Linked DNA regions of Homo sapiens: region 1 is linked to region 2. The links come from fine-mapping of genetic effects on gene expression. A gene starts in region 2. The other region holds a variant in brackets. All regions are shown on one strand. Distances are from middle to middle.

What was found. PIP is the estimated chance that this variant, and not a neighbour inherited with it, causes the effect.
Region 1: its variant is the best candidate, but not a certain one, in a credible set for the expression of CD79B in esophagus muscle (GTEx, PIP 0.76).

The regions. Positions count from the first base shown.
Region 1 is chr17:63,902,209-63,907,577 of GRCh38, forward strand. No RefSeq gene overlaps it. Among named protein-coding and RNA genes, the nearest start is that of CSHL1, 6.4 kb to the right of the region's middle. The variant T/A (reference allele first, on the strand shown) is at 3,153.
Region 2 is chr17:63,929,805-63,935,173 of GRCh38, forward strand. It overlaps CD79B (CD79b molecule), which reads right to left and starts at 2,527. Exons shown (of 6, transcript NM_000626.4): 1 at 2,391-2,527; 2 at 1,531-1,581; 3 at 270-581; 4 at 1-84. The coding sequence starts at 2,457. RefSeq lists a silencer at 1,377-1,446 and enhancers at 2,144-2,533, 2,507-3,177, 3,034-3,143, 3,154-3,203, 3,777-5,369 and 2 more.

The sequences.
Region 1 (5,369 bases), 28 kb before region 2:
TTGTGGGTCTTGGGGGAGTATACAGATGGTAAGAAATTCCACTTCGGGCCAGACAAGCATCGTATCTAGCCCAGTGTTCTGTCTCTGAAGTAGAAGGTAGAGTTCTTCCATGAAATTGGCCTCTTAGGTTAAGAGCTCCAAACATCTCTGAATTCCTTTTCATAGAGTGATCAACTGTGAGTTCGCATTTGCCAGTTTTCTTTTTTTTACCCATATAGGTGTCTAGGTTAGAGTTGCAATGTTTACTCTCTGTTTTCATCAAGAAGTGCATATTTTTTTCTGACTGTAAACAATTTCCTTGAAGCTTCAAGAGGAATCCTCTTGTGAAAATGTTCATATGATTTTATGGTTCAGCCTCCTTCCCTGTCCTTCGGAAAGAGTATATTCACCCTCGGAGAAGGCGTGAGGAATCACAAAACCAGATCTTTTCTCCCAAGTCAGTCAAGAAATGTTCACTGGAATGTTGCTATGGTAAAAATAAAAGTGGTTTTATGATGTCCAAATGCAGTTCCCTTCCCTTCTGTGTCATTGCTGAAAGCTCTTGTTATGTCAAATGGTTGCATTTTATCACTTTTTTTTTTTTTCAGATGCAGTCTCGCTCTATTGCCCAGGCTGGAGTGCAATGGCGTGATTTTGGCTCACTTCCACCTCTACCTCCTGGGTTCAAGGATTTCTCTGCCTCAGCCTCCCAAGTAGCTGGGATTACAGGTGCCCATCACCATGCCCAGCTAATTTTTTGTATTTTTAGTAGAGACAGGGTTTCACCATCTTGGCCAGGCTGGTCTTGAAGTCCTGATCTCGTGATCCACCCACTTCGGCCTTCTAAAGTGCTGGGATTACAGGTATGAGCCACCGCTCCCGGCTGCATTTTATAACTTTAAGTACAATTTCTAAGGAAAAAATACCGTGTTGATAGCATAAACAACCAGCCCGGGGCAGGGGGTGCATTAGCTCAGGGTGGCAGCCTATGTAAACTGCTTTCAAAACTGAAATTCAGGCCGGGGCGGTGGCTCAGCGTGTAATCCCAGCACTTTGGGAGGCTGAGGCGGGCGAATCACTTGAGCCCCAGAGTTTGCGAATAGCCTGGGCAACATGGCAAACCCCATTTCTACAAAAAACACAAAACTTAGCCAGGTATAGTGGCACGTGCCTGTAGTCCCAGCTACTTGAGAGTCTGAGGTGGGAGGATCACTTGGGCGCGGGAGGTGGAGGGTTGCAGCGAGTTGAGATCATGCACTGCACTCCAGCCTGGGTGACATAGCCAGACCCTGTCTCAAAAGCAAAACAAAGGAAACACAAGCAAAAAGAAAAGCTAAAGTTCAGACTTCCAGATAGAGAGAGGTCCATAGCTTTCCAAATTGCAGATACCAGCTAGAAAAAACCATGGCATCAGACAGCAGAGGGAAAACGTTTTCCCATTCTTCCCAGACCTCCCCTGAGTCTGGTGCTATAGATTAAGTGTAAAAGTAACCCTTTGGTTTCACCACATACAAGGCAGTGGGGATACAGTGGTGAACAAAACATTGTTCCTGGCTTCCACAAATTTATTAGGAAAGCAAGACAAACAAGTAGGAGATTACATTTGTGCATGAACTCCTATGACTGGGAAAACAGATTGTTAAGAGAAAGCATAACTCGAATCAAGGAAGGCTTCCTGGAGGGACACGAAATATCTTGACTTTATAAAATAGCATCATCCCCGAACATGACCTTTTCAACCTCAATGTTTCCACTAGGTGGAGCTACTGCTCCTTCATCATGTGAGTCTAATATAAATCATCCACCTTCCCTGAATTGAGCATTTGGGGAAGTAAGTTAAGAAGCAGGTTTAAGAGACAGGAGTATACAGCCACACCATGCAGGGATCCACAGCCATTTTGGTGTCAGGATCAGTCGCATCAGGGCTGTAGATATCCTGTATCTGCAAACCCTGCCTCATGGCCTCAGTGCCTTGAAGCACAGCGAATCCAACAAGGAAGGGGAAAATGAGCCAGGCATGGTGGTGTGCACCTGTAATCCCAGCTACTGGGGAGGCTGAGGCAGGAGAATCGCTTGACTGTGGGAGGCAGAAGTTGCAGTGATCCGAGATCGTGCCATTGCATTCCAGCCTGGGCAACAAAGCGAGACCCCATCTTGAACAAAACAAAAACAAAAGCAAACAAAACCAAAAAGGGAGGAAGAAGGGGGCCACTTGGACTTTCTAGTTCCAGCAGGGCGAGCCTGGAGGCTCAGCCGGCTGCTGCCTTTGCTTCTCACTGCTACAGGGTGTCAGTGTTGACAGATGGTCCCACACAGTACCCTCAAACCAAGCGGGTCTGCAGATCTGGGTTCCCACCTGCTGTAGATCTCTGAGGGAGGATGATCTGCTTCTTCGGGGCCTGGTCCAGCTCTGCAGGTGTCCTCTTGCTGGGGTTTCCAGCTTTCCAGTTCTTAGAGCTCAGTAGTTTGGATGAGCCGTCCCGCAAAGCTCTTCAGAGTAGGCTGGGCTTTTTCCCTTGTAGACTTGGAACCTCTGTTCACTTTCCTTCCCGAAGGATCCACACAACCAGAGATCAGGCAGGCCTTTCTCATTGATTCTTTTTTTTTTTTTGGAGACGGAGTCTCGCTCTGTCTCCCAGGCTGGAATGCAGTGGCACGACCTCGGCTCACTGCAACTTCTGCCTCCTGGCTTCAAGCAATTTTCCTACCTCAGCCTCTGGAGTAGCTGGGATTACAGGTGTGCACCACCACACCTGGCTAATTTTTGTGTTATTAGTAGAAACAGGATTTCGTCATGTTGGCCAGGCTGGTCTCAAACTCCTGACCTCAGGTGATCTGCCCACCTCGGCCTCCCAAAGTGCTGGGATTACAGGAGTGAGTCACCACGCCCGGCTTCATTGATTCTTAAAGCAAGAAGGATCTCATATCTCTTTTCCAGTATAATAGAGCTTCTAAGGGTAGTTGCCTTCATTGTCTATAGGAGGAGGCCCCACCCTCTAAATGGTTTTGATCATATTCTTTCTGAACATTAAAGCAACCAGCTCATACTTAAATTGCAGCTACCTTGATTATCTCCAGAGGAAGAGTGGCCTTTAATACTCCAAAATTTTATCTTCTTTCTTATTATTTTTGAGAGAGAATCTTCCTCAGCCACCCAGCTGGAGTGCAGTGGC[T/A]TGATGGGCCCAGCCCAACACTGCCTCCCGGGCTCAAGCGATTCTCATGCCTTCGTAGCTGGGAATACAGGTGTGCACCACCACACCTGGCTAATTTTTGTATTTTTTAGTAAGAGACGGGGTGCCACCATGTTGGCCAGGCTTATCTCGAACTTGTGACCTCCTCCCGCCTCAGCCCTCCAAAGTGCTGAGATTACTGGCGTGAGCCACAGTGCCTGGCCATTTATGCTCTCAAGGATGGTCAGGGTGACATTCTGGTGTCTTTCTCTCTAGACCTGAGAAAGCATAAGTTACATCGTTAGTGGGACTTCTTACCATAGGATTAATAATAGTATTTACCTTAGAGAATTATAGTTAGAAAGAAATGACATAATACTTGTAATAAACTAGCATGGTGCTGGAGACATGTGTTCACATTTGTTGGTTTTTATTATTACACTGATAATTCTAGTGGTAATTAAGCACATCATTATAATCACAGTAAACTCAAAGCAAGAATCAGAAATCCATGATAACCATGAGGGCCATCAAAGGTCATATACACTGTGCACAGCTTTCCGGTTTTTCTAGTCTTTTTCTTGCTCCTTCCCCTACTTTCCCCCCAGTTTGGTGCCCTAAGATTTAGGACTACTAATAGGGTGACCAGTCCTGTGAGCTGAGTTTGCATTGAGCTGAGGGATTCCTGGAAGGAACGTGGGACTTTCAGTGTTGACATTGAGAAAGTCTCCTGCAAACCAGGACGAGTTGGTGACCCTAATCCCAGAGGTACTCATTGTGTGCCTCAGCACTCCAGGGCCTTCTGAATTAAAGAAGCATCCAGGCAAAGTGTCAGCTTGTCTTGGCTGAGAAGCCCAGACCCTACAATTCAGAAGAAAAAGGAAGGGGTCAGTTCTGCTCTCAACTGTGTATAAAGGGACAAAACCAACCATGTGTATTTCAACAATGCTCATGGAAGATATTCAGAAGTGGTCATTTTAGGTTAGGGTAAATTCAAAAAAATGACAGAGTCAGTAAAACATTATGCCAGGGGTCAAGGATGACTGGAGCTCTGCCTGCTGAACTCTTCCCTGTGCGAGTCTCGATAATCTTATCTTCAGGAAGAGTTTTCATTAGAAAATACCATTAAGGGCCAGGCCTGGTGGCTCCCGCCTGTAATCCTATCACTTTGGGAGGCCAAGGAGGGTGGATCACCTGAGGCCAGGAGTTTGAGACCAGCCTGGCCAACATGGCGAAACCCTGTCTTTACCAAAAATACAAAAATCTGCCCTGTGTGGTGGTGCACACTTATAATCCCAGCTACTCAGGAGGCTGAGGCATGAGAATCACTTGAACCCGGGAGGAGGCGGAGGTTGCAGTGAGCCAAGATCCCACCACTGCACTCCAGCCTCTGTCTCAAAAACAAAAACAAAAACAAAAGAAACTATTAACAATTTTTAGTTGTGAGAAGATATAAACATTTCCATCTTAACCATTTTACGTGTACAGTTCGGTCACGTCAAGTACATTGACATCGTCATGCAACCCTCACCACCAACCATCTCCAGAACCCTTTTCATCTTGCACAGCTGAAACCCTGTGCTCGTTAAATGGCTCCCTATTCCATCCCTCCCCACAGCCACTGGCAGCCACCATCCTACTTTTTGTCTCTACGAATTTGACTGCTCTGAGTACCTCATCTAACTGGAATCAGAGAGTATTTGTCTTTCTGTGACTGGCTCACGATAAACACTTTTTAGATGACTGGTTGGAATTAGGAGCAGGTGGCACCACAACTGGCCCAGGCCTCTCGTCTCCTTTTTCTCCGTTTTCCCTGTTCCACCAATACAACAGCTGTGAACACATGGGTCTCATCTTTGCGGTCCCTAACACAGTGGTTCTCAACCTTGTTTACATGATAGAATCACCTGGGAAAGTTTTCAAACTACTCTTGCCTGGACCACATTCCAGGCTAATTATATCAGAATCTCAGGGAGTGAGGGCTCACGAATGCATCGTTTAGAAAACACCCTAGGCATCTCAAATTTGCAGCGGAAATTGCCGTCCACACCAAGTTGATGAGCTGAAAGGTAGACTAACAGTAGGTAAATCAAAGAGTTTAAAGCAGATGGTCTTTAAGGTCTTTTTATATTCTAAAATGTGCAAAGTCAGGTAGTATCTTTCTAATTCTCAACCAGCAGTGGTTGAGTGGATTCTCCTATACCCGAGGGGAGCTGGGTG
Region 2 (5,369 bases):
AGAGGATGATCAGCAGCGTCTGGATCATGATGATACCATCCTTCAGCGTGTTCCTCTGCTTCAGCTGTGCCAAGGTGCTGAATCCTGCGGGGACAGGGGTGGGGTTGTGAGCCTGGGCCACAGTCCACCTTTTAGGCCTACAAGGGCAGCTCCCTCAGGTCCCAGTGGCTCTCCTGAGTGCTCTAGGGCCATGACCATCACCACAAGAGGCAGGCCGGGCTAGGGTGGGGCGGACAGCTACAGGAGCGTCCCAGCCACCTGGCACACACCCATGACTCGCAGCTCTGTGCCGCAGCCCTGGTAGACCTCCGAGGTGTTGTTGCACTTCTGCTGACAGAAGTAGATGCCATTGTCCTCAAACCGGATGCCTTGGATGGTGAGGGTGGCGAGAGATTCGTTCTGGGACTCTTCCATGCGGCCCTTTTCCAGCTTCAGCTGCTGGGGATTCTCGTCCATCTCCTGCTTCCAGAGCCAGCTCACATTGCCGGAGGCGCTGTTCATGTAGCAGTGCATTTTCACCGTGAAGCCCCGTTTCCTGGCTATGAAACGTGGGCTCTGCCAGATCCGCGAACAAGCACTACCTGTGGGTGCCAAGGCCAGGCTCAGCATTCCGCTTGGCATCTTCCTGAGTGCCAGCCCCAGCAGCAGGCCCCTGCCCTGGCTGGCACAGACTCCCTGGGCTTAGTCCTTGCTTCTCAGGGTGTGGGACAGGCAGGAGGCTGAGGTTGGAGTTGGGAAGCAGAGCCACGTGAGAGGCTGAGCCACATGAGAAGCCACGGCCAAGCTCTCAGACTCCACCTCTTCCCGACTGCCCCACCTCCCCTTCGATTTTCCTTTGGAAGAGCCCTGGGACCTTGCCATTCCTTCCTATGCCCATTACAACAGCCTGACCCAGGCCACACCCCCAGGACCTGGAGGCCCACAGGCCTGGCCCCTCCTTTCACTGGGCTGCCCTGCACAGGCTTGAAATCCTCAGTCTCCCCCGTTCCTCCAGGGATAAAGGCCAAATTCCTAGTCTGTCAACTGAGACCTTCCTCAGTCGACCCCCTCCCTGCATGACTTCCCTCTATCATCCCCCTCTTCCCTCCTGCAGGGACTGGGTCCACTTCTTGTTCCAGAACCCTCTTTCCAGCTTCGACTGCCTTGTTCTTAGTGAGCACTGCCCGGGAATCCCTGAGCCCCTCACATAGTGACCCTGCACTGGAGGGCTCACCCGAGACTCAGCCAGATTCCCAGCTAGACAGGCCCGGGCCTGAGTCCTAGAGGAACCCCCAGGCTCCCTTGCTATGACCCAGAGTTTAGCCCAGCCCTTCAGTGGCCAAGGCTGGAGGGCATGTGTCTGATGAGGATGACAGTGGGCTGGGGGTGGGGCTCAGAGGAGATCCTAAGGAGGCCTGGGGATGGGAATCCTGGATGGGGAGATCAGGCAAGGGTGGGAAGGCGGACCGCCCCCAGGACAGGGACCATAGTCGGACACAGGACATAGTCGCACACAACTTGCCCTCAGAAGCGGCAGGCGAGGCTACTGACCTTTGGGATTCCGGTACCGGTCCTCCGATCTGGCTGCTGGTACTGGCTCAGCTGCTGGGTGGGAGGAAGTGGGCGGGGCCAGTCAGGGCCTCCTCTGGCCTGGGCTGCCCCACCCCTGCATGCCCTCTATGTTCCCGGAGCTACTTCCTCCTTCCATGACAGCAGCTTCAAGACCCCTCGGTCCTCCCTGCCCCCAGTACTTGGGAGACAGATATGGGGTGGGGGTACCGGAAGCCCTGCCCCCAGCCCCCTTTCTGCCTTTGACCCTCATGGTGGCTTTGAGCAGGCATCTGAATGAGACAGGAGGGACAGGGAAATCTCAGTATTTTGAGAGGCCAAGACAGGAGGATCGCTTGGGTCCAGGAGTTTGAGACCAGCCTGGGCAACATAGGGACACCCTGTCTCTCTTTTTTTTTTTTTTTTTAAAGAGAGACAGGAAGAAAGTCACAGCCCGGAGGATCTTTCACCTCCCAGAGGAGGGGACCACATTTGGATCTTGCATCTTCCAGGGTCCGGTTGGGACAGCCTCTCCCCTCCCGACCCCCAGGCACCGCCCTCAGCCTCTCTTCCTCCTGAGCCTAGTTCTTCCACGGTCCTGGTTGCTAACTCTGGTTTGCTCCTCATGCCCAGCTCAGCCTGATGCTCTCCAGGCAGGAGAGGAACTGGGGCCACAGGCTCCTGAGCCCATCACCACGTGCAGCTGACACCCACAGACCCAGGCCCCAGGGCCATGAGAGGGAGACAGGCGGTAAAGAGTGAGAGACAGAGGAGGAGGGTGGAGCAAGCAGGAGGCAGAGCCGCAGGGCCCAGACAGCTGGAGATGAGAGCAAACCCCACAGGCCTCGTCGTGGGTTCTGTACCTGAGAGCAGCAGCAGCAACGCCACCATCCAGTGGCTGGGCACAGGAGACAACGCCAGCCTGGCCATGGTCACCGCTCTGTCCCCGACCCCAAACCCGTGACAACGTCCGAGGCTCCTTGGAGGAAAACGTGTAACTGCACCGGCTGCAGCCTGTCCCCTCCCCGCCTCTTCCTCACCAGGCCCCTTCCTGCCATGCAAATTGGGACCCAGGGGAGGCACCAGCTCTCCGGGGACCCTGGGGGAGGGCAGGCTTTTGTCAGCTGGGCCGCTAAGGTTTGGCGGTCGCCCAGCTTGGGCAGCACAGCTGGGGTCCTCTGTGGATGCCTCTGGGGGGCCTCTCAGTCTTCTGGGGGAAGCCTGTGCTCCCCTCTGTCTGTGCTTACCCCACCGGTGGTCATCCCCTGGGCCAGCCAGCCTCCCCTCTGCCGTCTGCCAACTCCCCGAAGGGCCGAGCCCGGCAAGTCTCTATTCCTGGGCCGTGAGCGAAATAGGCACCTGTCCTATGAATGAACCTGAACTTAGCTCCTCTGTCCTGAACTATTCCTCACCCAGCGGGAAGAGGAGCACTGAAGAAGGACAGGGCAGCCACAGACCCAGGTCAGGCATCTGGAGGGGCCCAGAGCAGAGCCTCTTGGCTGGAGTGCAGGCAGCCATGTTGGAAGTTGACCCTGTGGAGGATGGGAGCCACAGAGGTTCTGGAGCAAGAGCAGGTCAAGTGTGGCAGCCACTGGGAGAAGATTCAGTCCAGGTCTTGGTGAGAGGCCTCCCTTCCTCATGCTGTGAAAGAGTATGTAGGGGCTGCCAAACAGGGTGGATGTAGGTGGAGACAGCTTTGCGAAAATCCACCACGCAGCCACTGGGGGCTTCTTCAGGGAGTTCTTAACTGTGGGACTCTGAGTGCGTTGAATTGTTGTCTGCAGGTCCAGGGGGTCTTGGGCAGGGAACAGGAGCTGGTGTGGGGGAGCCCTCAGGTCCTCCAGCTGTATCCTGCCTGTCCTCAGAGTGCTGGATGGAGCCACAGTGCTCAGGAACTGATATAAACTCACCTTTGCGCCCCTGCCCCTGGGTCCAATGCAGCCCCTTCAGAGATGCCCTTGTGCAGGGCACAACATGCACAAGTGTACACAGCATGCTTGCAGACCTCAGCCCTGCAGCTGAGCCCTCTGAATTTTATGTTTCCTGGCAGCTTCTTTTTTGTCTCTCATCCTCGACCCCCAGGAGAGGAAGAGATGCTAAATCGTCGGTGCCCTCTGTCCACCTCTCACTCTCCTCACAACCCTCCGTTTTCCAGTCTGTGCTGGGGCAGGTCTGTCTGGATTTAGGGAGAAGCAGAACCACCTCCCATGCCATGGTTGGAAGGCAGAGGGTCTGGGTGGTCCCTCTTTAGATCTTGGCCTAGGCCTCGGACCTGATAAGGTGGGGGCCACTCTCAAGGGGTGCAGGCCAGGACCTGAGCCACGGAAGTCAGGGGCAGGAGGGTTAAGGTTTCATCCGAGGAACAGCCCGTTCCGGGCAGCCCCAGATGTTCTTTCTTGTTTCCAGATGTTCCAAATGAAAAAACATTTCTCTGAAAAGCTGTCAGATGTTCAGTTCATGGAATAAACAGCTCAGAAATATAAACATCACCTGAGGTCAGCTTGAGGCCCATGGGCCCGCATGCTGGTGAGGGTGGCTGGAGAGAGACTGACCCGGGGGGAGTGGGGCAAAATCTGGGAGTCTCATGGTTTAGGAAATACTCTTCCTGAGCCCCTAACGACAGAGTCCTTCATTAACTTTGGGGCTAGTGTCTCCCCAAAGTTGGGGGGTATAACTGGGAAAGGCTTGGGGCACACGTGTTTGTGGGGGGTGTGTGTGTGTGTGTATGTGCATGCTCACACAGGTGTGTTGCCTGGACCCTGTGGTGTGGGGCCTACTCTGGAGCTGGTCCTAGGGCTCAGCGGACTGTAGGGGGCACGGAGGTTGGTGGGGGGCAGTTGGCACCCATCCTCAGGTGACAGGTGCGCTAAAATCTCAGAAATCACCACTAAAGAACTTATCCAGGTAACCAAAAAAACTACCTGTACCCCAGAAAATATTGAAATAAAAAATTTAAAAAAACAAGTGAGAAGCAGCTCCCACTCCAGGGAGGGAAGACACACACATCCCGTGGACAAGGATGCAGATGTGGCCTTTGGGCTTCATTCCCATTCATGCCGGGCAGGGATCTGTTTTCAGGAGGGGCGGAGGCAGCGGGGGCCCCACCGCCTGCAGGGTTATTTGTCACATTTTGAGCCGTGCTGTTCCCTCACTGGTGACAACAGCCCTGAGCCCCATTTTGGGCTCATGATGCCCTTTTCTTCCCAGAACAGGAGGCCTCACAAGCCTACCCCTGCCTCTGCCCTCGGCTGCCCGGGGCTTCACATTCTGACTTCTGACGACACCTCCCTTTCCAGGAAGGCAACATCAAAATAAGGAATGGGGGCCAGGGTCGGGCGAAGGGACAAGGGGCTCAGGGGGTGGGGAAGCAAGAAGGCAGCGACCCCCAGCCACCCTAGGATGCCGGGAGGGGGAAGAACCTCAGGGAAAGAAGAGCTCAGACCCCTGCCTCCTTCTCCAGCCCAGGTGTCCTGGATCTGCTGGGCTGCTGTGACTGGGAAAAGACCTGCTAAGAAGGACGTGGGTTTGAGTCCTGACCCAGCAGTGTAGCAGCCAGGAAACCTCCCCAGGTTACCAGTGGTTCTCTACTAAGGGTGGCTCTGCCCCAACGGAGGGAGCGTCTGCACATGCATCAGGGCAATCGCGCTGGTCTCAATGACCGGTGGGTGCCTGGGGCGGGAGGGGCATTGGCTGGCAAAGCAGAGTTCCCTGCCCCACATGCCAACAGCACCCATGAGGCAACACCCATTCTTAACCTCTCAGTGACCAAGGTTCCTCATTTTCGTAAAATAGAAATAAGCCCAATAGCGCGTTTTTTTGTTGTTGTTTTCTGGGGTTTTTCT